Linked DNA regions of Homo sapiens. The protein of the gene in region 2 purifies or fractionates together with the protein of the main gene of each other region. This does not show direct contact. Each region holds a gene or a part of one and is shown on either strand. Other genes may lie near its edges.

The links.
Region 1: the proteins of PSG8 (region 2) and ITGA7 purify together in Homo sapiens (affinity purification with mass spectrometry; 2 studies listed by BioGRID and IntAct, with this or other methods). This does not show direct contact.
Region 3: the proteins of PSG8 (region 2) and EOGT purify together in Homo sapiens (affinity purification with mass spectrometry; 2 studies listed by BioGRID and IntAct, with this or other methods). This does not show direct contact.
Region 4: the proteins of PSG8 (region 2) and MCM9 purify together in Homo sapiens (affinity purification with mass spectrometry; 2 studies listed by BioGRID and IntAct, with this or other methods). This does not show direct contact.
Region 5: the proteins of PSG8 (region 2) and CELSR3 purify together in Homo sapiens (affinity purification with mass spectrometry; 2 studies listed by BioGRID and IntAct, with this or other methods). This does not show direct contact.
Region 6: the proteins of PSG8 (region 2) and PEX7 purify together in Homo sapiens (affinity purification with mass spectrometry; 2 studies listed by BioGRID and IntAct, with this or other methods). This does not show direct contact.
Region 7: the proteins of PSG8 (region 2) and GFM2 purify together in Homo sapiens (affinity purification with mass spectrometry; 2 studies listed by BioGRID and IntAct, with this or other methods). This does not show direct contact.

The regions. Positions count from the first base shown.
Region 1 is NC_000012.12:55,697,905-55,701,404, reverse strand, and holds part of ITGA7 (integrin alpha-7 isoform 2 precursor), read left to right. Parts: coding exon of another isoform or gene 1-26; exon of another isoform or gene 27-55; coding exon of another isoform or gene 56-79; intron 80-250; coding exon 251-506; intron 507-518; exon of another isoform or gene 519-839; intron 840-1,011; coding exon of another isoform or gene 1,012-1,143; exon of another isoform or gene 1,144-1,378; coding exon of another isoform or gene 1,379-1,415; coding exon 1,416-1,535; intron 1,536-2,487; coding exon 2,488-2,695; intron 2,696-2,828; coding exon 2,829-3,022; intron 3,023-3,378; coding exon 3,379-3,467; intron 3,468-3,500. UniProt on the Homo sapiens protein: Integrin alpha-7/beta-1 is the primary laminin receptor on skeletal myoblasts and adult myofibers.
Region 2 is NC_000019.10:42,755,679-42,759,178, reverse strand, and holds part of PSG8 (pregnancy-specific beta-1-glycoprotein 8 isoform a precursor), read left to right. Parts: intron 1-237; exon of another isoform or gene 238-472; coding exon of another isoform or gene 473-563; exon of another isoform or gene 564-577; intron 578-898; coding exon 899-1,177; intron 1,178-3,500.
Region 3 is NC_000003.12:69,007,185-69,010,684, reverse strand, and holds part of EOGT (EGF domain-specific O-linked N-acetylglucosamine transferase isoform a precursor), read left to right. Parts: intron 1-824; 5' UTR 825-838; coding exon 839-1,048; intron 1,049-2,156; coding exon 2,157-2,257; intron 2,258-2,863; coding exon 2,864-2,972; intron 2,973-3,500.
Region 4 is NC_000006.12:118,928,660-118,932,159, reverse strand, and holds part of MCM9 (DNA helicase MCM9), read left to right. Parts: intron 1-421; 5' UTR 422-436; coding exon 437-740; intron 741-3,481; coding exon of another isoform or gene 3,482-3,500. UniProt on the Homo sapiens protein: Component of the MCM8-MCM9 complex, a complex involved in the repair of double-stranded DNA breaks (DBSs) and DNA interstrand cross-links (ICLs) by homologous recombination (HR).
Region 5 is NC_000003.12:48,638,887-48,642,386, reverse strand, and holds part of CELSR3 (cadherin EGF LAG seven-pass G-type receptor 3 precursor), read left to right. Parts: coding exon 1-29; intron 30-377; coding exon 378-536; intron 537-862; coding exon 863-1,063; intron 1,064-1,827; coding exon 1,828-2,713; intron 2,714-3,500. UniProt on the Homo sapiens protein: Receptor that may have an important role in cell/cell signaling during nervous system formation.
Region 6 is NC_000006.12:136,839,592-136,843,091, forward strand, and holds part of PEX7 (peroxisomal biogenesis factor 7), read left to right. Parts: intron 1-3,500. UniProt on the Homo sapiens protein: Receptor required for the peroxisomal import of proteins containing a C-terminal PTS2-type peroxisomal targeting signal. Specifically binds to cargo proteins containing a PTS2 peroxisomal targeting signal in the cytosol.
Region 7 is NC_000005.10:74,725,618-74,729,117, reverse strand, and holds part of GFM2 (ribosome-releasing factor 2, mitochondrial), read left to right. Parts: intron 1-2,991; coding exon 2,992-3,177; intron 3,178-3,362; coding exon 3,363-3,478; intron 3,479-3,500.

The DNA.
Region 1 (3,500 bases), on a different chromosome or scaffold from region 2:
GGAGATCTCCATTTGAGGGCAAGGAAGTGGGTGCAGACAGGTTGCTGGGTTATGCATGGACCTGTGTAACACTGGCAGGGTAATGGTGCTTGAGTGGTGCCGGCATAGGGGTGTGTGTGTATGTGTGCATGTGCATGTGCATGTGAGCACACATGTATCAGTATCTGCCAAATCTCTGCATATGGGCAGCATGCCTCAAGCAGGTCCCTGGCCCACAGAGTGAAATGATCCCCATCCCTTCCTCCCCCAGACCTGTGCACACCGATATGAGGCAAGGCAGCGAGTGGACCAGATCCTGGAGACGCGGGATATGATTGGTCGCTGCTTTGTGCTCAGCCAGGACCTGGCCATCCGGGATGAGTTGGATGGTGGGGAATGGAAGTTCTGTGAGGGACGCCCCCAAGGCCATGAACAATTTGGGTTCTGCCAGCAGGGCACAGCTGCCGCCTTCTCCCCTGATAGCCACTACCTCCTCTTTGGGGCCCCAGGAACCTATAATTGGAAGGGTGAGTCACTCCTCGGGAAGGGGAGAAGGGGACCAAAACCTCCTCTTACCTCAGAGACAGGGTTGGGGATGGCACATGGCCAAGCATGACCACATGTGCACTGCTGTATGGCCCCAGGGCACTGCCATGCCTTCCACCCCATTGAGCTAGTGCACACATGAATGGGGGGTGCCTCCTTTCCCTCGCACGGCCAAGTGTTCCTCAACATGCTGGCATGGGCCCCAAGTGCACGCTGGGCCTGCAGCTGGGGCCTGCATGCTCCAACACACTAGCCCACACCTCATCACTGCCATTCCCGTCTCCGCACGCTGCTGCTGGCTGAGCTGACACTCGGTGAGTGTGATGCCACATCTGGGGGACCCCAGGAAGCCTGGGTTGGGGACAGGGTGGGGAGAGGGCTAGAAAGAAGAGGCAGGGCTTCCCCGTGTGCCTGTCTAACTCAGTGTCCGGCCTGAGGGGTGTTCCTTGCGCCCTGCCCTGGGCACTAACAGGTCTGTCCTTGCAGGCACGGCCAGGGTGGAGCTCTGTGCACAGGGCTCAGCGGACCTGGCACACCTGGACGACGGTCCCTACGAGGCGGGGGGAGAGAAGGAGCAGGACCCCCGCCTCATCCCGGTCCCTGCCAACAGCTACTTTGGTAGGGACCTCTCCCCGGCCCAGAACTGCTCTAACCCTCTGCTCCTCTCTCTTGTCCTCTCTCTCCATGCTCCCATCCTTCTGTCTCTGTTTCTGTCTCTCACCTTGTCTCTCTCTGTCTTTCTGTCTCTGGCTGTGATCTCTCTGGTCTCTTTTTCTCTCTCCACCTCTTCTTCTTCCACCATTTTCTGGCCTTTCTGTGGCTCTGTCTCCCTACTCTGTGGCCCCTACTCTGGATGTCCCCTCCCTGGTGTCTCACCCCACCCCCCACAGGGTTGCTTTTTGTGACCAACATTGATAGCTCAGACCCCGACCAGCTGGTGTATAAAACTTTGGACCCTGCTGACCGGCTCCCAGGACCAGCCGGAGACTTGGCCCTCAATAGCTACTTAGGTTTGTAAGCTCCCACCTCCTGGACTCTAGGGGCATGGCCCAGCCTCCCCTCCTTCCCCAGGGAACTCGACCTTTGGTGCCTTATAATCTCCTCCTCCCCCAACACACACCCAGGGAGACATACATTGGGCCCAAATTGCAGAGAAGAGCTGGGTCCAATGATCAGGCCTAAGAGGAGGAGGCCCCCAGGGTGGTGGCCTCTGGGGCTGTGAGCCAGGGGTCTCCATGGAGGAAGATTCAGGTGGAATGAGAGGGCCAGGGCTGAGGATATTTTGGGAAGGACAGTCCTGTCTTCTAGGGGGACTTTCCCTGAGGGGATGGATGGTGGGCACATATTGAAGAAAGGGCTAATGTTGTTGGTAAGTCCCTCTCGTTGTCTCATCTGCATTCCTCTGCAGAGGAGGAGGAAACCAGGCCTGGGAGATGTTTGGGTGAAGCAGGCGCTCTCTCACTCCCCCTTGTCTCCCCCTCATCCATGTGAAGACTTCCCCTCCCTGCCAGGATGAGGGAGTTGGGGGAAAGAGGTGCACTGGGTGGGATTCGGGCCTGAGAGGGACCTCTAGCTCTTCTAGCTCCCTGGGTGTGGGCAGGGTGAGGCCACTGTGCTCAGCCTCCTACCTGGGCTCCTGGCCTTCTCAGCCATCACCTTTCTCTCTCTTGCCCAGTCCCTGAGGCTGACCTCACTGCACTTTTTGTGCCAAGCTTGTCTCTGGGCCTGGTGGGTGTGGGAGGCTGCCAGGCCCTGTGGGGAGGAAGAGCTATCCAGCTGTGGTGCTGATGACTTGGGGGGACCTATCTTTTGGCTCTTAACCTAGGGGAGGGGGCAGGGTGCAGGGGAGCTGTGACTTGGCTCTTAACCTGTAGGGAGGGGGCAGGGGCTGGGGGAGCTGTGACACACCCCAGCTTCTGAGTCTTGGGGTGAAGACTTAGGGGTAAGTCACCCTTCCCCCAGGCTTCTCTATTGACTCGGGGAAAGGTCTGGTGCGTGCAGAAGAGCTGAGCTTTGTGGCTGGAGCCCCCCGCGCCAACCACAAGGGTGCTGTGGTCATCCTGCGCAAGGACAGCGCCAGTCGCCTGGTGCCCGAGGTTATGCTGTCTGGGGAGCGCCTGACCTCCGGCTTTGGCTACTCACTGGCTGTGGCTGACCTCAACAGTGATGGGTGAGTGGGTAGAGGGCCGTGCCACCTGAGGGAGGCTGGGTCTAGTAGCCCCAGTCTGGCTGAGGCCACTTAGCCTCCTGCTGGCTCCTCTGGCCAGGGAGGACCCACACTGAATGTTTCCCTCTCTCCATAGCTGGCCAGACCTGATAGTGGGTGCCCCCTACTTCTTTGAGCGCCAAGAAGAGCTGGGGGGTGCTGTGTATGTGTACTTGAACCAGGGGGGTCACTGGGCTGGGATCTCCCCTCTCCGGCTCTGCGGCTCCCCTGACTCCATGTTCGGGATCAGCCTGGCTGTCCTGGGGGACCTCAACCAAGATGGCTTTCCAGGTGTGACGGGGAACTGGAAAGGCTCAGGGAGGGAGGGGCCACAGGAGGGATGGGGAAGCCCCTCAGAGGTCAGGGTGTGGTCTTCTGAGGACTCAGGGAGAGAGGGTCCCTGAGCTTATGTCTGAGCTGTACCATTTACCAGCTTTCTGACCTTGGCAAGTTCCTAACCTTTTTGCGTTAGTAATATCTGCAGGGAGTGGCCAAGAGGATTAAAGATGATGTATGTAGAGTGCCTGGGATTTTGTAGCCTCTCAATAAAATAGAAAACATACCTGAGTGACTGGGGGGAGTTGAGGCCTGGATCTTGTCTGCAAGGCCCCCAGCCAGCGTGACTGCCTTTTCCCTGTGCCCTGCAGATATTGCAGTGGGTGCCCCCTTTGATGGTGATGGGAAAGTCTTCATCTACCATGGGAGCAGCCTGGGGGTTGTCGCCAAACCTTCACAGGTGAGGGGAGTCGCTGGGATGAGGGAATGGGTG
Region 2 (3,500 bases):
GTCTAATATCCACCAAACACATATGGTCCATGAGGGCCAGACTTCCATCATCTGTTCATGTTCGCCCTTTCCACCAGTCGGTTCTGCATTTGCAAACATCCACATGTATTTCCAAAAAGATCCACATGGTCCTCACCTGCCCTCTACAGGGGGAAGGGAGCATCATGGATCCAGAACAGGGAACGTGGTCTTGGTCCAAAGCTATCAGTTCTTGCCTGTCCCCTTCACTCTCTGTAGGTCATTCCTTGGACTCTGCTCTATCTTTAGAGGTCACTGGCTCAAGTCAGCCACTATGAGACACCTGGGAAAACTGCGCCACCTTGTGGCTCCACTGCCTGATGACTGAACTGACCTCCGGACTTGACTCTGTTCTCCCCTGTGTTATTTCTGCTGAAGTACCCAGTCCCAGGCCAGGCTTTCCAGTACCCAAAGGGTTTAAAGACAATTGGAAGTTCCATCACCCATCTCTAGGATGTCCTTGGCAAGGGAAGCTGCAGAGAAAACATACCTTGGGCGGCAAAGTAAGACTGAAACTAAGAAGATTCCAGCACTGCATGCTCCAAGTGAGGACCACAAGGTGGGCCAGGCAGGCAGTTGGAGACGGAGGGACTCAGAGAGGCAACAGGGGCTGTGACTGCTGGTCCTGTGTCTTTCCATGACCCAATGCTGCTGCTCAATTCACACTTGAGAAAGTCTGTGTTTCTACATGAAGCAGGCAGCCTCACAACCTCTGAGCCCTCAGATTGCCCTGCATCTGTCTTGCAACACACACACCTGCCATGGGCTTTTAAGGACTTGGGTGGGCTGAGAGGTGGGAAATGCCAACTCTGATTGAAAAATGCCTTTGGAGGAATCAAAGGTGCCACACAGGGCAATCTTCTCTCTGTTTTCTGCACAGTGGAGACTCCCAAGCCCTCCATCTCCAGCAGCAAATTAAACCCCAGGGAGGCCATGGAGGCTGTGAGCTTAACCTGTGATCCTGAGACTCCGGACGCAAGCTACCTGTGGTGGATGAATGGTCAGAGCCTCCCTATGTCTCACAGGTTGCAGTTGTCTGAAACCAACAGGACCCTCTTTCTATTGGGTGTCACAAAGTACACTGCAGGACCCTATGAATGTGAAATACGGAACCCAGTGAGTGCCAGCCGCAGTGACCCATTCACCCTGAATCTCCTCCGTGAGTATTTTCTGTTCCTCTGTGAGCCAGGCTGCCATCCCAAATACACGTGGCCAGAGACCAGGCCTCTCAGTCCCTCTCAGGTCCAAGTACAGAGACCTTTACCCCTGGACATCAAACCTGGCCATGACTTTCTGCCCCAGGCAAACCAGAGTAGGCCTAGGCTTGATCAACAATAGGAGAAAAGAGGCTGCTCCTGTCATGGGAGACTCAGCGTCCACAGCTTGTGATGGGAGAAACAGGTGAATGTCTCAGGCTCCAGATCAGTGAACACAGCTGGGATTTGGCTGGGACTTCAATGTTGTGACTTGGCTCACAGGGTCACTGTGATTGTGGTGCTTCCACAGACGAGATTTTCCCTTCCCTCTGAAAATATCGCCTGTGACATTATTCTCTTTGCTCCACATGGCCTGGATGCCCCCACCATTTCCTCCTCATACACCTATTACCATACAGGGGAAGTCCCCAAGCTCTCCTGCCTCACAGACTCTCACCCACTGGCAGAGCATTCTTGGCTGATTGATGGGAAGTTCCAGCAATCAGCACAAGTGTTCTTTATCCCCCAAATCACTAAAACATATAGAGGGGTCTATGTCTGTTTCATCCATAACTCAGCCACTGCTGGAACAAATCTCATAATCAAGAGGATCATAGTCCCTGGTAAGTGGATCCCTGGAGCATTGGCACTATGTTTTCCAGTGAAGTCTATCTAGTTATCAGGGAAGAGCCACCTGCCCTCTGCAAAGGGAGAGGGAAAATCAAAAACCCAGGACAGGGAATATGTTTCTGCTCCAAAACCACCAGCTTTTGCCTGTCCCCTTCACTCTTTCTAGATCATTCTTTAGACTATACACTAACAATGAACAATCCGAAAGGAAATTAAGGAAAGAATTTCAGTTCACATTAACATCAAAAGGAATAAAATATTTTGGAATAAGTTTAACCAAAAAGTCAAATGATTATACCCTGAAAACTACAAAAGATTGCTGAAACAAGTTAAAGACGATATCAATATATGGAAACACATTTCATTTTCATGGATTGGAGGAATCAATATTGTTAGAAAGATAATATTCCCAAAGTGAGTTGCGGATTCAATGTAACACCTAACAGAATCCCAGTAACATTTTTTGCAGAATTAGAAAACACTGTCCTAAATCTCACCTGACAGGCTCTTATTAATGACTGCCACAACAGATACACTGAGAAAAAGAGGCAACCATGAAAAGGTGGAAAGTTCTGATGACATAGAAAATAGCAATCAGCCTTCAAAGGCTTCACATCCCAAAGCCTTCAAAAATATACGAGTGAGGCATGGCCAGTATGGAATTCACCGAAAACTAATCACCAAGCTAGAAAAGTGGTGAGAGAAAAAAAAAGGGCAAGAATATCTTTGGCTTATCACCTCCCACTTTTGCCTACTAATCTGATGCTGAAAAGAAATGCTCACTGGAGCATTTTAGATTTTGAATCTTTCAGATTTGGGATGCTAAACCAGTAAGTATATGACAAATATTTCAGAATCAAAAAATGTCAGAAATCCAAAACACTTTTTGTCCTAAGTCTTATGCATAAGAAATACTCAATTTGTGTGAACTATAGGCATCAAGCTCTACAGCAGATCTCTAGAACCTCCCCACCTTGCATAAATGAAACTGCACACCCATGAACAACTTCTGATTCTCCCCACTCCCAGCTCCTGGCAACCAGCAGTCTCTTCTCATATTCACTCTGGAATCCACTTACATGAGGTCCCTAGAGTAGTCGAATCCAGGGAATCAGAGAGTAGAATGTCCAGTGAAAGAAAATATTCCCAAAACTTCTCTTCAAATTTGTCTCATATCCATCAAACACACATGGTCCATGAGGACCAGATTTCCAGCAGATCCTTCCCACCCTTTCTACCAGTCAGTGCTGCATTTGCAAATGTCCACATATATTTCTGGAAAGATCCACATGGTCCTCACCTGCCCTCTGCAGAAGGAGAGGAAACTTGAACGCAGGACAGGCAACATAGTTCTGCTCCAAAGCCACCAGCTCTTGCCTGTCGCCTTCACTCTTTCTAGATCATTCCTTGCACTCTGCTCTATCTTTAGAGGTCACTGGTTCAAGTAAGTCATCATGAAACACCTGCAAAAAACTGCCCCACCTTGAGCCTCCACTGCCTGATGACTGAACTGACCTCCAGGCTTGATTCTGGTCTCCCCTGTGTTATTTCTGCTGAAACATCCAGTCCCAGGCCAGGCTGCTCAGTATCTTCAGGGTTTCAGGACCATGGGTAGTCCCATCATTACTCATCTCTAGAATGTCCTTGGAAATGGAA
Region 3 (3,500 bases), on a different chromosome or scaffold from region 2:
TTTATTTAATAAACATTTCCATAGCATTTAGCATGTGCCAGATAGTTTTCGAAACACTTTACCAATAACTAACTCATTTAACTCATGACAGCTCTATGATGAAGGTTTATTATTATTTCCATTTTACAGATGGGAAAGCTTAGGTGCAGAAAGGTTAAGTAACTTGTTCCAGGTCTTACAGCTGGGAAGCTGCAGATTTGCGATTCAAATCCAGGTGGTTAAGCTTTAAATGTTCACCATGCTATGTTGTCTATCATATTACTTTATTTAGTTTCAGGTATCACTAAACTGGATCCTATCAAGCCCTTCCATAATTTTTGTAAGTTAAAAAGTTTTATTGGAACACAGCCTCATCCATTCTTTTATAATAGACCATGGCTACTTTTTTGGACAGAGGCATTGTTGTGTAGTTGCCACAGAGATCTTATGTCTGGCAAAGCCAAAAATATTTACTGCTTCTCCTTTACAGGAAAAGTTTGCTGGCCCCTAGTTGGTTTGATTCACAGGCCCAGTCATCAGCTGAAGTTGTTTATTTGATTGCTTGTTTATGACAGTTGTAGTAGGTTTAAAGGCACCATGAGAGCAAGGCTCTTTCTTGTTTTGTTCACCTCTGTATACCCATTTGCTAACGTGGTGCCTGGCACCAAGCAAGTGCTCAAAAAAAATTGAATAAAGGATCATTATTCAGTGGGATAGCAAAGTGCTTTGTAATTATACTTAGCCCTTGACCCTTTGTTTTTTTTTTTTTTTTGTTGTTGTTGTTGTTGTTGTTTTGGCTTTTAAAGGAAATTTGTTAACAAAGTTGTCTTCATTTTGATCTCTAGGTTTGCAGGTTGCTATGTTAATGTTGTTTGTCTTTGGAGTCTTACTTCATGAAGTCTCACTGAGTGGTCAGAATGAAGCTCCTCCTAATACTCACAGCATTCCAGGCGAACCTCTGTATAACTATGCCAGCATCCGCTTGCCAGAGGAGCACATTCCCTTCTTTTTGCACAACAATAGGCATATTGCCACTGTCTGTAGGAAAGACTCTCTTTGTCCATATAAGGTAGGTATTATTTCTTTTCTCCTTATTTTTATGAGGATGCAATTTCAGCTGGCTTACAGGTTCTGCTTTATAACCTGAAACTGAAGGCAGAATTCTAATTTTCGGTTGTCACTGTATAAGTTAATCATTGTTTCATATAATACTTCTAAGTGACTAAACTGCTTAAAATTATGTCCCATTCATAAGAGAGAAATTTAAAATCTAAATCACTTCTAAAACAAATAAGTAGCCAATACTATTTGTAAACTCTGTAAAGAAGCAATTAGATTTTATGCAGGAAAGAACATCTTGTTAAAAGTAACTAAAGAATTTCACACCTCTTCTTTCTTAAACGGCACATGAGAGGATCGGTTAGCACTTAATTTCAGTAATAACACCTCAGCCTCTGTCTCCACATAATTAAGCCTGTTACTGTGGCTTTCTTTCTGTTTTAGAGGAGTTGGAAAGGCCTCAAATAGGAGCCCATTAAGACATCTCACAGGGCCCCAGAGATCAAAGCTGGGCATTGTGAGACACTTCCTTTCCCATGGTGCTGGCACAGGAAGCATATGGAAAAGCAGACTTGGGAATCAGACCAGCATTGCTCCTGGGGCCTTGCAGAAGAGCATTCTCAACTCCTTGGCCAGCAGCAGCTGGGTGGTTCCCAAGGGTGGCAGAGTTGTCCATGTGTTGTGGGGTCTCTGCTGATCTTGATTGCTAAGTGAAGTTGCTGATTGATTCAGTTTAGCTGTGATTCCTTTGGTAGCACAAATTCCAGTTTATATGTCTTTTAGGGACTGATTTTAGAATCCGCTTGCTCACTGAGAAAGGTGGTTTCTTAAGCTACTTCAAGAAATTCAAATTCAAGTGGTCTTTGAGCGTCTAGGTAAAGCCCAGACTTTCGGTTAGGGGACCGATATGGTGGGGGTGATGAGTAAGGAGGATTGTTAAGAACCTTGAGACTGCTCTTTTTAGAATTAACTGTAAGTTTTAAATTTATTGTTATAAGAATACGTATTATAAATGTAAATGTGAATGCTCTATAATGATTTGTTTTCTTAATGGAAAAATCTAAGAGTCTTCTCTAAATGTCAGAAGAAGGGAAATCAATGTAAGTTTTATGTTCTAGAAACACCTAGAGAAGCTAAAGTACTGCTGGGGTTATGAGAAATCCTGCAAACCAGAGTTCAGGTTTGGTTACCCAGTTTGCAGCTATGTCGACATGGGATGGTAAGTTTCCATATGGAATACCCTCTTCAAGTCTTCCTCTTTCTATACAGTGTATGTTGATGCCCTAATTTCCAGCTAGATTCTTTTGGTTTTAGATAGTAATTCATTTAGATATTAATTTGCTTGCACAGTCATGAATTCAACTTGACTATTTCATACTGGGATAGGAATATCTGTCATTTCCTCTGCCAGAGGGAGAAACAGCCAGGACCATAGATAATTTTTTCCCCCAGTGTATAGTAAGAAGATAAATGGATGGTTTCTTCTTGATTCTTCCTGGGAGAATTAAGTATAATTAGTACTTCCAATACATGCAATGTTAATGAGGTAAAGAAAATATAGTAATTAAGAATGCATCATTGGCTTCAGTTTCAGGTGATAACTTCATACATGTCTGTTATGTATTTTATGATAAAGGAATAATTCTGTGAATAACTTAGTTTCGTAACTTCATGTAGTGAGGCGTAGTTTTGGAAAAACTATGATAATATACTGTAACAAAATTAAAGTAATAAGGAACCTCTAGCATTTTAACCTTTAGAATGAAAATTCAAGGTCCAAAAAAGTAAAAAGAAAAAAACACAGAATATTTTTATTTGCAAATAGGACGGACACTCTTGAGTCAGCTGAGGACATATTTTGGAAACAAGCTGACTTTGGATATGCCAGAGAGAGGCTGGAGGAGATGCATGTGCTCTGTCAGCCTAAGGAAACGGTGGGTATTTTGCTCCTTACTAAATAAACTTGTTTATTTAATTTTAATTTTATTTATTTTTGAGACGGAGTTTCTGTCTATTGCCCTGGCTGGAGTGCAGTGGCGCGATCCCAGCTCACTGCAACCTCTGCCTCCCAGGTTCAAGGAATTCTCCTGCTTCAGCCTCCTGAGTAGCTTGGATTACAGGCGCGTGCCACCCCCCCCCGCTAATTTTTATATTTTTAGTAAAGGTGGGGTTTCGCCATGTTGCCAGGCTGATCGCGAACTCCTGACCTCAAGGGATCCACCCACCTCAGCCTCCCAAAGTGCTGGGATTACAGGCGTGAGCCACTGTGCCCAACTAAGCTATTTTATTTTTATTACTTATTATTGATTTTTAATATTTATCATTTAGCTTGTAATGTAAAAACAAGATAGACGGCACTATGAAAGGAATTCCTCACTCTCACTTAGTTATTGGCATAGAATTTTATGTAACTTCCCCAAATAGGTTGTTTTCTTTCCTTTGGAAACCCTGTCCTCCTTATC
Region 4 (3,500 bases), on a different chromosome or scaffold from region 2:
ACAATGGTATCTATGTATCTAAGCATAGAAAAGATACAATAAGGATACAGTATTGTAATCTTATGAGACCACTATTATAAGTGCAGTCCGGAAATGTTGTTAGGTGCATGCCTGTATATTAATGCAGGGTTAATATGAAGGAAATTTGGGGAAAAGATGGGAAATGCTTTGAACTATTTTGGATTTTGATAATCAGTACCAACATAGTTCTTTGACTTACATTTGACTTCACTCATTTTTGAAGTACATGTACTGTGACTGTAACAGATAATTCAGATTTCATTAAGATTTGAATTCAGATATTATTTTGTGATTATAGTATGACCCAAAGCCAGTGTGATTTATAACCAATCGTTTTTGTTAAATTGTGTGTACATCTTGAGTATCAAATATATAATATGATCCTTTTTTTTTTCTTTAGTTACCTAGATTCAAGATGAATAGCGATCAAGTTACACTGGTTGGTCAAGTGTTTGAGTCATATGTTTCGGAATACCATAAGAATGATATTCTTCTAATCTTGAAGGAAAGGGATGAAGATGCTCATTACCCAGTTGTGGTTAATGCCATGACTCTGTTTGAGACCAACATGGAAATCGGGGAATATTTCAACATGTTCCCCAGTGAAGTGCTTACAATTTTTGATAGTGCACTGCGAAGGTCAGCCTTGACAATTCTCCAGTCCCTTTCTCAGCCTGAGGCTGTTTCCATGAAACAGAATCTTCATGCCAGGATATCAGGTAAATCACTTAAGGATTTTACTGCCATGCTATCTTCTAGAAAGATTTTGAGAAAATATACTAGATTTAGAACACTAAGAAATAATTGATATTTATACTTAAAATATATATCTGTTGTGTAGTTGATGGTCACTTCTTTTAGAGCAGAATAATAATTGTGTTCTGTGGGCATGAAGTATGAGTCTTGCCCACTGAGGGGAGGGAGAATGTGTGGAGACAGCAGTATACTTGTGTGTCTATATATTTCCACGTCTGTGTTTAAAAATGTAATTCAAAACAGCTTTATGAGCTTTTGTGGTTACTAACAATAAAGGAACTGGTAATACAAAGAATTAGAAAAGTGATAGATCTTGTCCAGGGATCTTCAGAACTATTTTAGGACATTAGTTATTTTTAAAGATCAGTATTAGCATTGTGCAGTCTACCTACCAGTTACTCGATACATTTTTGTTGAATGCATGACAGATAAAGCATCTTAATTGTTAAGAAACTGCAGTGGAGCAATCAGCAGCTTGGGGTGGCAAAGCTGTATCCTTGAATTCCTGCCTCTAGGAGTCCTTGCCCCTCACTTTCTGTTTTAAAAGTGATTTTTTAGTAGGATGGATAGAGTTGACTTAAGAATTTTAGGGAAAAGTGACACTATAGTGTAACAATTTTTATTTAGTTCATTGCATGGAAGTAATTTCTTGGAAGGCATAGTGTGGCGAAAGAGAAGAATTGGATTTAAAGGCTACACGCCTAACCTGGGAGACTTAGTAAGTTATTTTATCTCACTGAGCCTCAGTTTCTTCACTTGCAAACCACTTCTAGAGTCCCTGTCAACCCCCTAATTAAAACAAAATTTAACTATGCCATTATTGTATAAATTAATAAAGGCTGGTACAAATTAATTCTATTTACATGAAAGAAAGATTTGGTAAAATTAAAAGCAGGTCCAGAATATTGAGGGCAGTCTGTGATTAAGTTGGAGAACATACATACCCTTTTGTTTAAAAATAAATATTTAGCAGCCGGGCGCGGTGGCTCACGCCTGTAATCCCAGCACTTTGGGAGGCCAAGGCGGGCAGATCGCAAGGTCAGGAAATCGAGACCATCCTGGCTAACACGGTGAAACCCCGTCTCTACAAAAAATACAAAAAAAATTAGCCGGGCATGGTGGCGGGCGCCTGTAGTCCCAGCTACTCAGAAGGCTGAGGCAGGAGAATGGTGTGAACCCAGGAGGCGGAGCTTGCAGTGAGCCGAGATCGCGCCATTGCACTCCAGCCTGGGCAACAGAGCGAGACTCCGTCTCAAAAAATAAAATAAAATAAAATAAATAAATAAATAAATAAATATTTACCTTATAGTACATTTGAGAAGAGTGGTGATTTATAATCAATAAGAATGCTTCCTGAATTCCAAAAAGGTTTGGAGTCACTATAGTAGAACTTCTTGGAGGCAAGTTAAGATTCCCAAAAAGACCAAATACTTAATTTAAATGAAAAATATTGTCTGCAGTTACACTTGCTAGGATAAATTATGAAGAGTATTAATCATTATGCATCAGGGTACTAGATAATCTCTTGATGGGATCAAGAAAAAGGGTCCCCCCCATCAGCCTTTTTTAAAAATTAGAGATGGAGTCTCACTCTGTTACCCGGGCTGGTATTAAACTCCCAAGCTCAAGTGATCCTCCTCCTCTGGCCTCCCAAAGTGTTGGGATTATAGATGTGAGCCATCGTGTCTGGCCAATGTTTCCTATTAATAAGTTTGCAAAAGGATTATTAAGGGGGACTTTAGTTAATGTTGTCGAAATGCTATTTAGGAAATAGTTTTAGGCTGCCATTATTTTCAGATACCTTTCCATACTGAGTTTAAGTAATACAATCCTGTCTGCCTAAGTGACCCTATCAGTTTCAGGTGAATTTAGCTTATTTTTTCAATTCTCTGAAAAAGTAAGTTACAAATTATGTTACTACTGAACAAAACATCAGTAGGCATTTGCTAGGATCTTGGGAAACCAAAAAGAATATAGTTTTTCCCTCCTTTAAAAAACTCAGGGCTGTATGGCAGACAGCTATATAGTCAAATATTTACCAGATGGTGTATGCATGCCTACAGATACATGTGTATGTATATATTAAGCATTATTGTATGGGAGCTTAATGGAAACTTTTATGTGTGATGCATGCCTCACTCAAGGTATGTTGTTTTTGTTTTTGAGACAGAGTCTTGCTCTGTTGTCCAGGCTGGAGTCCAGTGATGCAATCTTGTCTCACTGCAACCTCTGCCTCCTGGGTTCAAGCAATCCTCCTGCCTCAGCCTCCCAAGTAGCTGGGATTACAGGCATGTGCCACCATGCCCAGCTAATTTTTGTATTTTTGGTAGAGACAGAGTTTTGCCATGTTGCTCAGGCTGGTCTTGAACTCCTGGCCTCAGGTGATCTGCCCACCTTGGCCTCCCAAAGTGCTGGGATTGCAGGCATGAGCCATGGTGCCCGGCCAGAATTAATGTTTAAATAGCGCTTGCTGTATGCCGAGTAATATTTTCAGAAACTTTACATGTATGAATTCTTTTTTTTTTTTTGAGACAGGGTCTCACTCTGTTGCCCAGGCTGGAATGCAGTTGCACAACAATCATAGCTCACTGCAGTCTCTAACTTCTGGGCTCAAGCGATCCTCCCACCTCAGCCTCCTGGGTAGCTGGGACTACAGGCATGTGCCACCACACTCAGCTATTTAAATTTTTTTTTTTTTTTGTAGAGGTGGGGTCTCTGTGTTG
Region 5 (3,500 bases), on a different chromosome or scaffold from region 2:
GGACGTGGCCATGTTCCATCGAGATGCTGGTGGAGTTGGGGCCTGGGGCAGGGAGGAGGGAGGCAGAGGATCTCTCCCCATCCCCTTTTCTTCTACCCCATACTGGGAGCAGTGGCTGACTGGGGTGGGACGATCTCCCCCAGGGTCCCTGCCTCAGGAGGCACCTACCTCTCCAGCCCTGGTTCTCCCAGTCCACTCCTGATTCGTCCTTCCCTCTGATAAGTCCCAGCCCTTCTGCTGCTACCTCCACTTCAAGCCCCGGTTCCTGTCCCCAACCCTAACCCCCTTGCCGTACCCACCTCTAGACCCTCAACTCCAAATTCCCTTATCTCCAAGTCCCTTACCTCTGAAAGTACTTCTGACTTTCCCAACTCCAGGCGCAGACTCCGACTCTGACAGTGACCTGTCCTTGGAGGAGGAGAGGAGTCTCTCCATTCCATCTTCAGAAAGCGAGGACAATGGCCGGACGCGGGGGCGCTTCCAACGGCCACTCTGCCGAGCAGCCCAGAGTGAGAGGCTCCTCACCCACCCCAAAGGTGCCAGGCGCCCTCTGACCCCTTGGGTGACCAAGGGATGCCCCATTTGTTATCCCTCCAGCTCCCCATCTTTCCTGCGGTTGGGGTTCATCCTGGTCTTTCTGACCCCTCAGTCATCAGGTTCCCCAACTTTTAGTCTCTGTCCACCTCCAGTTAAGGGGAGGGAGCTCACCAGTCACCCCCACCCATTGATCTCTGAGGAGATACCCTCCTGTTCCCACCTCTGCTCAATGAGAACAGCCAGGGTTTCAAGGGTCATTAGGGTCAGGGGTCATGAGTCACTGGGATCAACCCAGAAGCTCCTGTAACCTGACCTGGCTCCACAGATGTGGATGGCAATGACCTCCTGTCCTACTGGCCAGCCCTGGGGGAGTGCGAGGCAGCCCCCTGTGCTCTGCAGACTTGGGGCTCTGAAAGGCGCCTGGGGCTGGACACCAGCAAGGATGCAGCTAACAACAACCAGCCAGACCCGGCCCTGACCAGTGGGGATGAGACTTCTCTGGGCCGGGCCCAGCGCCAGAGGAAAGGTACAGTCCCTGAGCCCTGGCCCACACCGCAGACACGCTGGGGGCTGCTCATGCCCTGAGCCAAGGGATTGCAGCTTCCTCATCCCAAACTGAGAGCTCTTCTTACTCTGACCTAGGGCGCTTCTGCTTCTCTAGCCTGCTTCACGGTCCTCAGGGACTGCTCCTGTCCTGACCTGGGAATTCTCTGTCCCCCTCTACCCTGGCCAGCACCACAGGGGGACCACAGGCGACCACTCCTGCCCCAGCCCATCTGTTTTTCAGAGACCCTAGGAGCTGCTTCCCCCTGCCCCCCACCCAGATCCCAGAGCCCGTGCTCTGATCTGGAAGATTTCTGCCCCCTACTCTGCTTTTATGGGGACCCGGAGAAGAGGTTTCTGCCCTCACCCTTGCATCACAGGGACCTGGGGACTGCTCCTGTCCAACCCGGGGGGTTCCTGCATTTCAGCCAGGCCTGCATTGTCAGGACCTGAGGGCTGCCCCTCTTCTGACCTCAGGGAGTTTGCCCCATCCCCTGCACCATGAGACCTGCCCGCCCTCCCCCTGCCCCGGGACCACAACTGGAAGATGACTGCCCTTCCACTCTGACCCCTGTCCTGCTGCCTCTCTGGGACCACCAGGGTTGCCTCTGCTGCTCCCCAAGGGGTTCCTGCTCCCATCCCTGTGTTGGAAGGATCCCAAGGGCTGCCACACCCCTAGACTCAGCAATTCCTGCCTGCCCTCCCCCTCCCACACAAACCCTGCCCCCCATTTTCTTCCTCTCACAGGCATCCTGAAGAACCGGTTGCAATACCCACTGGTGCCACAGACCCGAGGTGCCCCTGAGCTGTCCTGGTGCCGTGCAGCCACCTTGGGCCACCGTGCTGTGCCAGCTGCCTCTTACGGTCGCATCTATGCTGGCGGGGGCACGGGCAGCCTTTCACAGCCAGCCAGCCGCTACTCTTCTAGAGAACAGCTGGACCTGCTCCTCCGGCGGCAACTGAGCCGTGAGCGACTAGAGGAAGCCCCTGCCCCTGTTCTACGTCCCCTGAGCCGGCCAGGGTCCCAGGAATGCATGGATGCTGCACCAGGCCGACTGGAGCCCAAAGATCGGGGCAGCACCCTGCCACGGAGGCAGCCACCTCGGGACTACCCTGGCGCCATGGCTGGCCGCTTCGGGTCACGGGATGCGCTCGACTTAGGGGCACCTCGAGAGTGGTTGAGCACGCTGCCTCCGCCCCGCCGCACCCGGGACCTTGACCCACAGCCCCCACCTCTGCCCCTGTCTCCCCAGCGGCAACTCTCAAGGGACCCCCTCTTGCCATCCCGGCCGCTGGACTCTCTGTCTAGGAGCTCGAACTCTCGGGAGCAGCTGGACCAGGTGCCTAGCCGGCACCCCTCACGAGAAGCCCTTGGGCCACTCCCGCAGCTGCTCAGAGCTAGGGAGGACTCGGTCAGTGGCCCCAGCCATGGCCCCTCCACAGAACAGTTGGACATTCTTTCCTCCATCCTTGCCTCTTTCAACTCCTCGGCCCTCTCCTCTGTGCAATCTTCAAGCACACCCTTGGGCCCTCACACCACTGCCACACCTTCTGCCACAGCCTCTGTGCTTGGGCCCTCCACGCCACGTTCTGCCACGTCTCACAGCATCTCGGAGCTGTCGCCAGACTCAGAGTAAGTATGGTCCAGCCACCTGCTTGCACCCTCATCAGCTTAGGGCAACCTCCTGTGTGCCCTGCCCTGTGTTCTGCCACAGAAGGGGATGAGGGCTGGCAGACAGGTGTGGGCTACCCCAGGCTCAGCACAGCCAGAGGGCCACAGGCTGGGGACAGGAATCTGGCAAGAAATGGGGGTGTGACTAGCAGGGACTTGCTGGCTGTGTGACTGGAGCCAGCCAGCCTTCCCAGCACCTCCCAGGCTAAGGAGAAATAGGTGCCATCCGATGGGCTGAGCTAGCGAATGGGAGGGCAGGAGCTGAGGCCTAGAAGTGGGAGATGACCTGGAATATGCAAGGGGCAGGGAGGAGAGCAGGAGGCCTTGCTTGGGAAGGTTCGCCTAGGGGGTCATATAGGACAAGGAGAGGCTGGAAGTGGTGCCAGGATATACCAGGCTGAAGGGCTTGCTTTGTTGAGGATAAATCATTCATTCATCGATGTATTCAGTCAACATTGAGTTCCTCCTGTCTGTGGACACTTTGGGGTGGGGCTCACAGGAACTGAGTTGGAACCTGGTTCATCTCGGGTATGTGTGAAGCATCTGTGGGGAAGGGGATGGCGGACAGACCCAGGAAATAGCTGGATACACAGGAGTCCGAGAGGGACTGGTGGGAGTGGGGAGGAACCAGGAGCTTCCAGGTCTCTTGTAAGCCAAGAGGAGAGTTGAGTTTCAAGGAGGAGAAACAGCTGGGTCAGGCTCTGGGGGTTTGTGGGGTAAGAGATGGCTTGGGGAGGAAGGGGGCCCT
Region 6 (3,500 bases), on a different chromosome or scaffold from region 2:
AGTCAGGCACTGCATATCTCTCTTCCTTTTTATATTTAATTTGACCATTTGCCATGCCCACTATTTGAGTGGGTGTGGACGGGGAGGTTGGGAATAAGGAAGAGATGGAAGAGGAGACTAATAGAAGATGTGCTTTTCATTCAGATTTGTTTCTCTTTTCCTTCATTCATTCCAGAAACTTTTATTAACTCTACTGTGTGCAAGATACTGTACCAGGCTAGCTGGGAAGACAAAACACCTTAGGCATGCCCTTACCCTCCTGGGGTCCTTGCACTGTCTGGGGAGGCAGGATTCTGGTTGTCTAATGTCTAATGTGGTAAGCGCTGTGAATGTATGCAGTGTTATGGGAAGGGAGGATTTGTCTGGGGAAGGGGCAGGGAGGGCATCCTTTGGTCTAAAGGGGAAGTTGGAATGAATTATTCAAGTGGAGAGGCCAGGGTAGTAGTGTTAGAGGCAAATGAAAGAGCATGCTTGACCAGAGAGGATAGAGCCTGTGTGCTTAGAGCTGTCAGCGTTTTGGCCATTGTGCCAAGATCAGTGGAAAGACATTGCAGATTTTAAAAATCAATGAAATATTTTATACATTATAAAATACATGTAAGATGTAAAAATGGTATATTGAACACACATATTCACCATCTAGCTTAAGAAATGAAACATTACCTATACCATTAGCGTCCCCTGCTTACCCTTTCTAGTCTTATCGTTCTTCTCTCTGCTTTTTTTTCTTCCTCGCTTCTTCCCAGGAGTAACCACTAGCCTGAATTTTCTATTTATATATTTTTTGCTTTTCTTTCTATTTTTACTACATATGTATGCATCCCTAAGTCATGCATAGTTTTGCATGATTTTGACCTTTGGGTAGTAAGAATCAGCATGGATGAATCTCACATAATGTTGAGCGAAGATGCTAAGTTGGAGCTACATATAGTGTGAAACCACTGAAAGGCTTTGCACAGGGGAGTGACATTTAATTTGTATTTTCTAAAGATTACTTTTTATGCAGTGTGGATAATGGATTGGAGGTAAACAAAAATGGATGGGGAGAGCAGTTAGAAGGATGTTATAATCTAAGTGGTAACTTATGGTTGATGGTTGTAACCTCTTAAGAGAAATCATAGACAAATTCTTAGCCATAGCCCTTTAGGATCTTATCCCTCCCAGCTATTCAACCTTGCTCTTCCCTGAATCTGGCAAGCTTGTTCCCTGTTAAGGTCTTTCCCTGTTCTCTGTAACCTGAGCCTTTCATCTCGGGTCTGCAGAGTTCAGTCTTTAACTGCACTCAAGTCTCTGCACAGAGAGGTCTTTCCTGGCCATTTTGTTGAGAAGTGACCCCCTGCCCTTGTCATTATTTTCTGTTCTCCTTACTCTGCTTTTTCTTTGTAGTTTTTAAAAAAATTGCAACTTGAAATTATACATTTATTTATAGCATGTTTGCTGCTGCTAAAATATAAGATCCATGGGGGCTGGTCTTATCTAAAATTGTAACCTCCTTTCCCCCCGTGCCTAGTACATAGTAGGTGCTCAATAAATATTTGTTGAATAGATGAGTGAATTGATTGAAGTTGGGATAATGGAATTCATTCTTCCCTTTTCAGCTGTTTCTCAAACATCTCTCTGGCTGTGAACTTTTTTCAGAGCTTGAGGTTAATGCCCAAACCCTGTCTTGCTGTCACCTCAAACTCAGTATATATAAAATTACATTATTTTCCTTCCTCCAGTCTTTCACTTTTGTTAATGCTGCCATCACTGACAGTCCTCAGGCACAAAACCTTGGTGTTATCTTGCAGTGTTCACTACCCCCGATCCCTAGGGTGCTGTATATTCCCATTTATGTGTTTGAGGAAGTTTTCTGGTTACTGTTTCACCTCTGCTTTTTGCCTATTGACATTTTAGCCAGCCCTCAGGGCCCTGCCTCAGTCTTTCTCTTCTGAGCACGAAGCTGAATTTCCATCCAAGCACCCCTTTTGTACTTATGTTTATAGTTTGTTTTGTTTTGTTTTTGAGACAAGGTCTTTCTCTGCTACCCAGGCTGGAATGCAGTGGCGTGATCACTGCTCACTGCTGTCTTGACCTTGACCTTGTGGGCTCAAGCCATCCTCCCACCCCAGCCTCCTGGGTAGCTGGGACTACTGTTATAGGTCACCACACCTGGCTAATTTTTAAAATTTTTTATAGAGACGGGGGTCTCGCCATATTTTCCAGGCTGGTCTCGAACTCGTGGCCTCAAGCGGTCCTCCTGCCTCGGCCTCCCAAAGTGCTGGGATTACAGGCATGAGCCACCGTGCCTGGTGTAATTACTCTTTTTTTAAATTAAAAAAAAAAACCCACACAGTCTCCTGATCTGTTAGTTCCTTTCCCATGTCCTAATATTTTAAACATAGTATTGAGTTGCCTTTCTTTTCTTTTTCTTTTTTTTTTTTTTGAGACAGGTTCTCACTCTGTCACCCAGCTTAAAGTGCAGTGGCACAATCTTGGCTCACTACAACCTCCACCTCCTGGGAGCGATTCTCCTGCCTCAGCCTCCTGAGTAGCTGAGACTGCAGGTGCCTGCCATCACACCTGGCTAAATTTTATATGTTTAGTAGAGACGGGGTTTCACCATGTTGGCCAGGCTGGTCTTGAACTCCTGGCCTCAAGTGACCTGCCCGCCTTGGCCTCCCAAAGTGCTGGGATTACAGGCGTGAGCCACCACACTCAGCCTATTTCCTTCTTTATGATCCCATTTTTAACTTCACCACCATGTGTGTCCTATCTTTAGCTCTGTCATAGAGACCTAATGCTTGCTACTTGGTTGTGCAACAGAAGACAGCTGACAGCAACAATGCCATCAGCATGGTTTTCTTACCTTCTATCTTTGATGTTGATTCAGGCTGGATTCTCTTGAGCCGGTGGAGGCTCCTGCAGTTTTAGAAGGTGAGTAGTCATAAGGTGTCACCTGCTGCATCACACTGGAAATGTGTGGAGGCAGTGGAGTCTGAGCTGATGATGAGTATTTACTTAGTAGTTCTCTGTACCTACCTAGCAGTGATTCAGGTTGTAAAGAAAAATTTAATTGGTTAAATTATTTTAACCAATGTTTGAGTGCCTATTTTACTGTGATGAACATAGATGTACAAGATGTTTTGCTCATTAGGAGTCTCCAAAATCTAGCAGGTATGTGAGTTATGTAACATTCTTTTTAGTAAATAAAATATGGTAAATGCTGAGTTAGAAGTAGGTGTGAGCTGCTGTTGAAGGCAGCATATGACTCATTGAAGGACTTATCAGGGGAGGCTTATTTCGTAAGGGATGTAATGGGGCACGTCTTGATGGATAAATGGAAATTCACAAGTGGAGAGGGGCTTTAAGATCTGTGTATAGGTAATTCATGAAAACACAGTGGAATCAATCTAGGCCCAAATGTAGCTCCAGTAAAGGGTGAAACCAGCAGGGGTAGAGCTTTAGTTCCTTGATATCATGGCTTAAGGTAGCCAAGAAGTTCTGATTCAACAGTGCCC
Region 7 (3,500 bases), on a different chromosome or scaffold from region 2:
CCAAGGAACCTGGAAAAAAGGGCTTCTCCAAAGATATCATCAACCCAGGCCTCAGATGCCACACATGGCCAGGTCTGGTGGCTCACGCCTGTAATCCCAGCACTTTGGGAAGCTGAGGTGGGCAGATCACGAAGTCTGGAGTTCGAGACCAGCCTGGCCAATATGGTGACCCCGTTTCTACTAAAAATACAAAAACTAGCTGGGAATGGTGGCGAGTGCCTATAATCCCAGCTACTCAGGAGGATGAGGCAGGAGAATTGCTTGAATCCCAGAGGCGAAGTTGCAGTGAGCTGAGATCGTGCCATTACACTCCAACCCAGGCAACAGAGTGAGACGCCATCTCAAAAAAAAAAAAAAAAAAAAAAAAAAGAAACCCCCACACATAAAAGAATATTAACTCATAATAAAATTAAATCAGAAAACCATGAGAAAAAGCACAATGAGCAAAAAGGCAATAGAAACAATAGGTAGTCATACCAGCAAAGGCTTCAGTTATTGGAATTATGAGATGTAGAATATAAAATACTATCTTTGAAGAAATAAGAGAGGCGATAGAAAGTACAGTTGACCCTTGAACAACATGGGTTTAAAGTATGTATGCAGGTACACTTACACATGGATTATTGTCCTGCCTTTGCCATCCCTCAGACAGCAAGCCAAACCCCTCCTTTTCTTACTCCTCAGGCTATTCAGTGCAAAGATGACGAGGATAAAGACCTTTATGATGTTCTACTTTTACTTAATAAATAGTAAATATATTTTCTCTTACGATTTTCTTGGTAACTTTTTTTTCTAGTTTATTGTAAAAATACAATATAAAATACATGTAACGTGTTAATTGACTGTTTATTTGTTGGTAAGTCTTCCTGTTAACAGTATTCTATAGTAGTTAAGTTTCAGGGGAGTCAAAATTTAGGCATGTATTTTTTACTGCATGGGGGTTTAGCACGCCTAGCCCCCACATTATTCAAGGGCCACTTGTGTTAGTAAGGAACAAGAAACGATCAAAAATAGGTGCGATGGGCATGATCTCACATATGTGGAACTTTTAAAAGTCTAACTTGTAGAAGAGTAGAATGATGGCTACCAGAGGCTGAGGATTGGAAAGCTGGGGAAAGGAGAGATGTTGATGAAGTGGGGTACGGAGTTTCAGCTGGACAGGAGAAATAGGTTCTCATGATCTGTTACACAGCACAGTGACTATAGTTAATAATTTATATTTTAAATCTCAGTACAAAGAAATAAGTTTTTTGACATGATAGATGTTAATTTGCCTGATTTTTATCATTCCACGATGTATACATGTATTGAAACATCACATACCCCATAAATATATACAATTATTTGTTAATTAAAAATGAAATAAAACATAAGAAAGGATAATGGAATATCATGCTATGTGTGAGAGAGGAAATGGTCAAAAAATGATGGTGAGGGGGTATATAAGGACACAGGAACCAGCTTGAAGAGACTCTGCTGGCCAAATCTGGATTAATTTGAATACCAAGTATAGACCATTGGGAAAAAATAGTTTCTAAGTTCATACTTATAATAATACATAGGTAAATAGGGAAGAAGAGGGAGGGGTCTTCCTCATAGTGGAATGCCAAGTGCTGACTGTTAGAAGTTGGGGAGTAGGGCTGGAGTCGGAAAATAGTGCAGACGACTCTCCCAAACACATAGAACAAAAAAGTTGCCGTATACATATGGCATAACAAATTTAAAATGAAGCAGAAGTAAACTATTGCTTAGAAATACATGCATATGTGATATAACACTAAAGAAAATAATGAGGATAACATATGATAGTGGTTGCTTCAGAAGGCATCTAAATATTGGTAATACTCTCTTTAGTAGTTTTAGGTTTCATGAATGCTCATTTTTAGCTTGTACATAAATATGTATATACTCATATATAAACGTATATTTATATATAAACATGTATATATTGAGACAATGTCTTGCTCTGTTGAGCAGGCTGGCATACAATGGCAAGATCTTAGCTGACTGTAGCCTTGAACTCCTGGGCTCCAGCAATCCTCCCGCCTCAGTCTCCCAAGTAGCTAGGACTACAGGTGTGCACTACCATACTCAGCTAATTTTTATTATTTTTTACAGAGACGGAGTCTTGCTATATTGCCCAGGCTAGTCTCAAATTCCTGGCCTCAAGTAATCCTCCCACTTTGGCTTCCCAAAGTGCTGGGTGGGATTACAGGTGTAAGCCACCACATCCAGCCTGTATAATTTTAAATAGAAAATGTTTCACAGTATAAAACGTAAGCATACAAAGGAATTATGAAGAATTATAGACTATAATTCTTAGTTTTGAATTTGGGCCATGAATCACTGCATTACATGGTCCCTCACATAAATATGGCATAGTTTTGTTTTAGTAAAATATTGGAGATTGGTAACAGACATAGTAAAATATTGGAGATTGTTGGTTTTTAGCAAATAAGAGATGCTGTTTTCAATCTTACCAAAAACACTTTACTGGTTTTTTGGGAAAGAAATTGTAAACAGTAAGTGCATAAAATATTGCTGGAAAAATACACAATATAAAACATTTTGTGGGTTGTCAGGATTTAAAGTCGTTTAATTTTCATTAGCTTACCTTTTATATTTGTAAAGGTTTTATCATTTAATTTTTTTAATATAAAAGTTTGTAACTAAGAGGATTTCAATCACCTACAAGACATTTTGAAAAGTTTAAAAGTATAATCTTCGTAACATGTGCCTCAACATATCTTAATGTTAAAACAATAGGTGATACAGAGCAGGTTTTTAACATTGATCAACACAGAAGCAGATGCTTTGTTGGTAGAGCTCTTTACTCTGATTTTTATACTGTATTTAGTGCCATTGTTAATATTCTCTCCCACTTTATCTTGTATGAGACCCTGAGCTTGTTGATGATAATTTTGCTGTTTATAGTACCTTGATACCTTTCCAGAATTAATCTCTGAGGTGCCATATTCAATTTGTTTACAGATACCTTAGATAGAACTTTAGGAGACAAAAGGCATCTTGTGACTGTAGAAGTGGAAGCAAGGCCAATTGAAACATCATCTGTTATGCCTGTGATTGAGTTTGAGTATGCTGAAAGTATCAATGAAGGCCTTTTGAAGGTCTCCCAAGAGGCCATTGAAAATGGAATTCACAGCGCATGTCTCCAAGGTAAGACACTCAAATGAGAGTAAGCATTAGTATCCCACTCAACCATTTAATCACTCCTTATATTACAGATTATTTCAGTCTTTTTCCTAACTTTGTTAGTGTTTTCTCCCTATTCCTTTGCACTTCTCAGTTACTTCTCACTTCACATCTAGCAGAGTATGATACAATTTTTTTCCCTTGTCTAGGACCATTGCTTGGATCCCCAATTCAGGATGTAGCAATTACTTTACATTCCCTGACAATTCATCCTGGCACCTCCACAACTATGATTTCTGCCTGTGTCTCAAGATGCGTGCAAAAGGTATAGAACTATCCTAATCCTT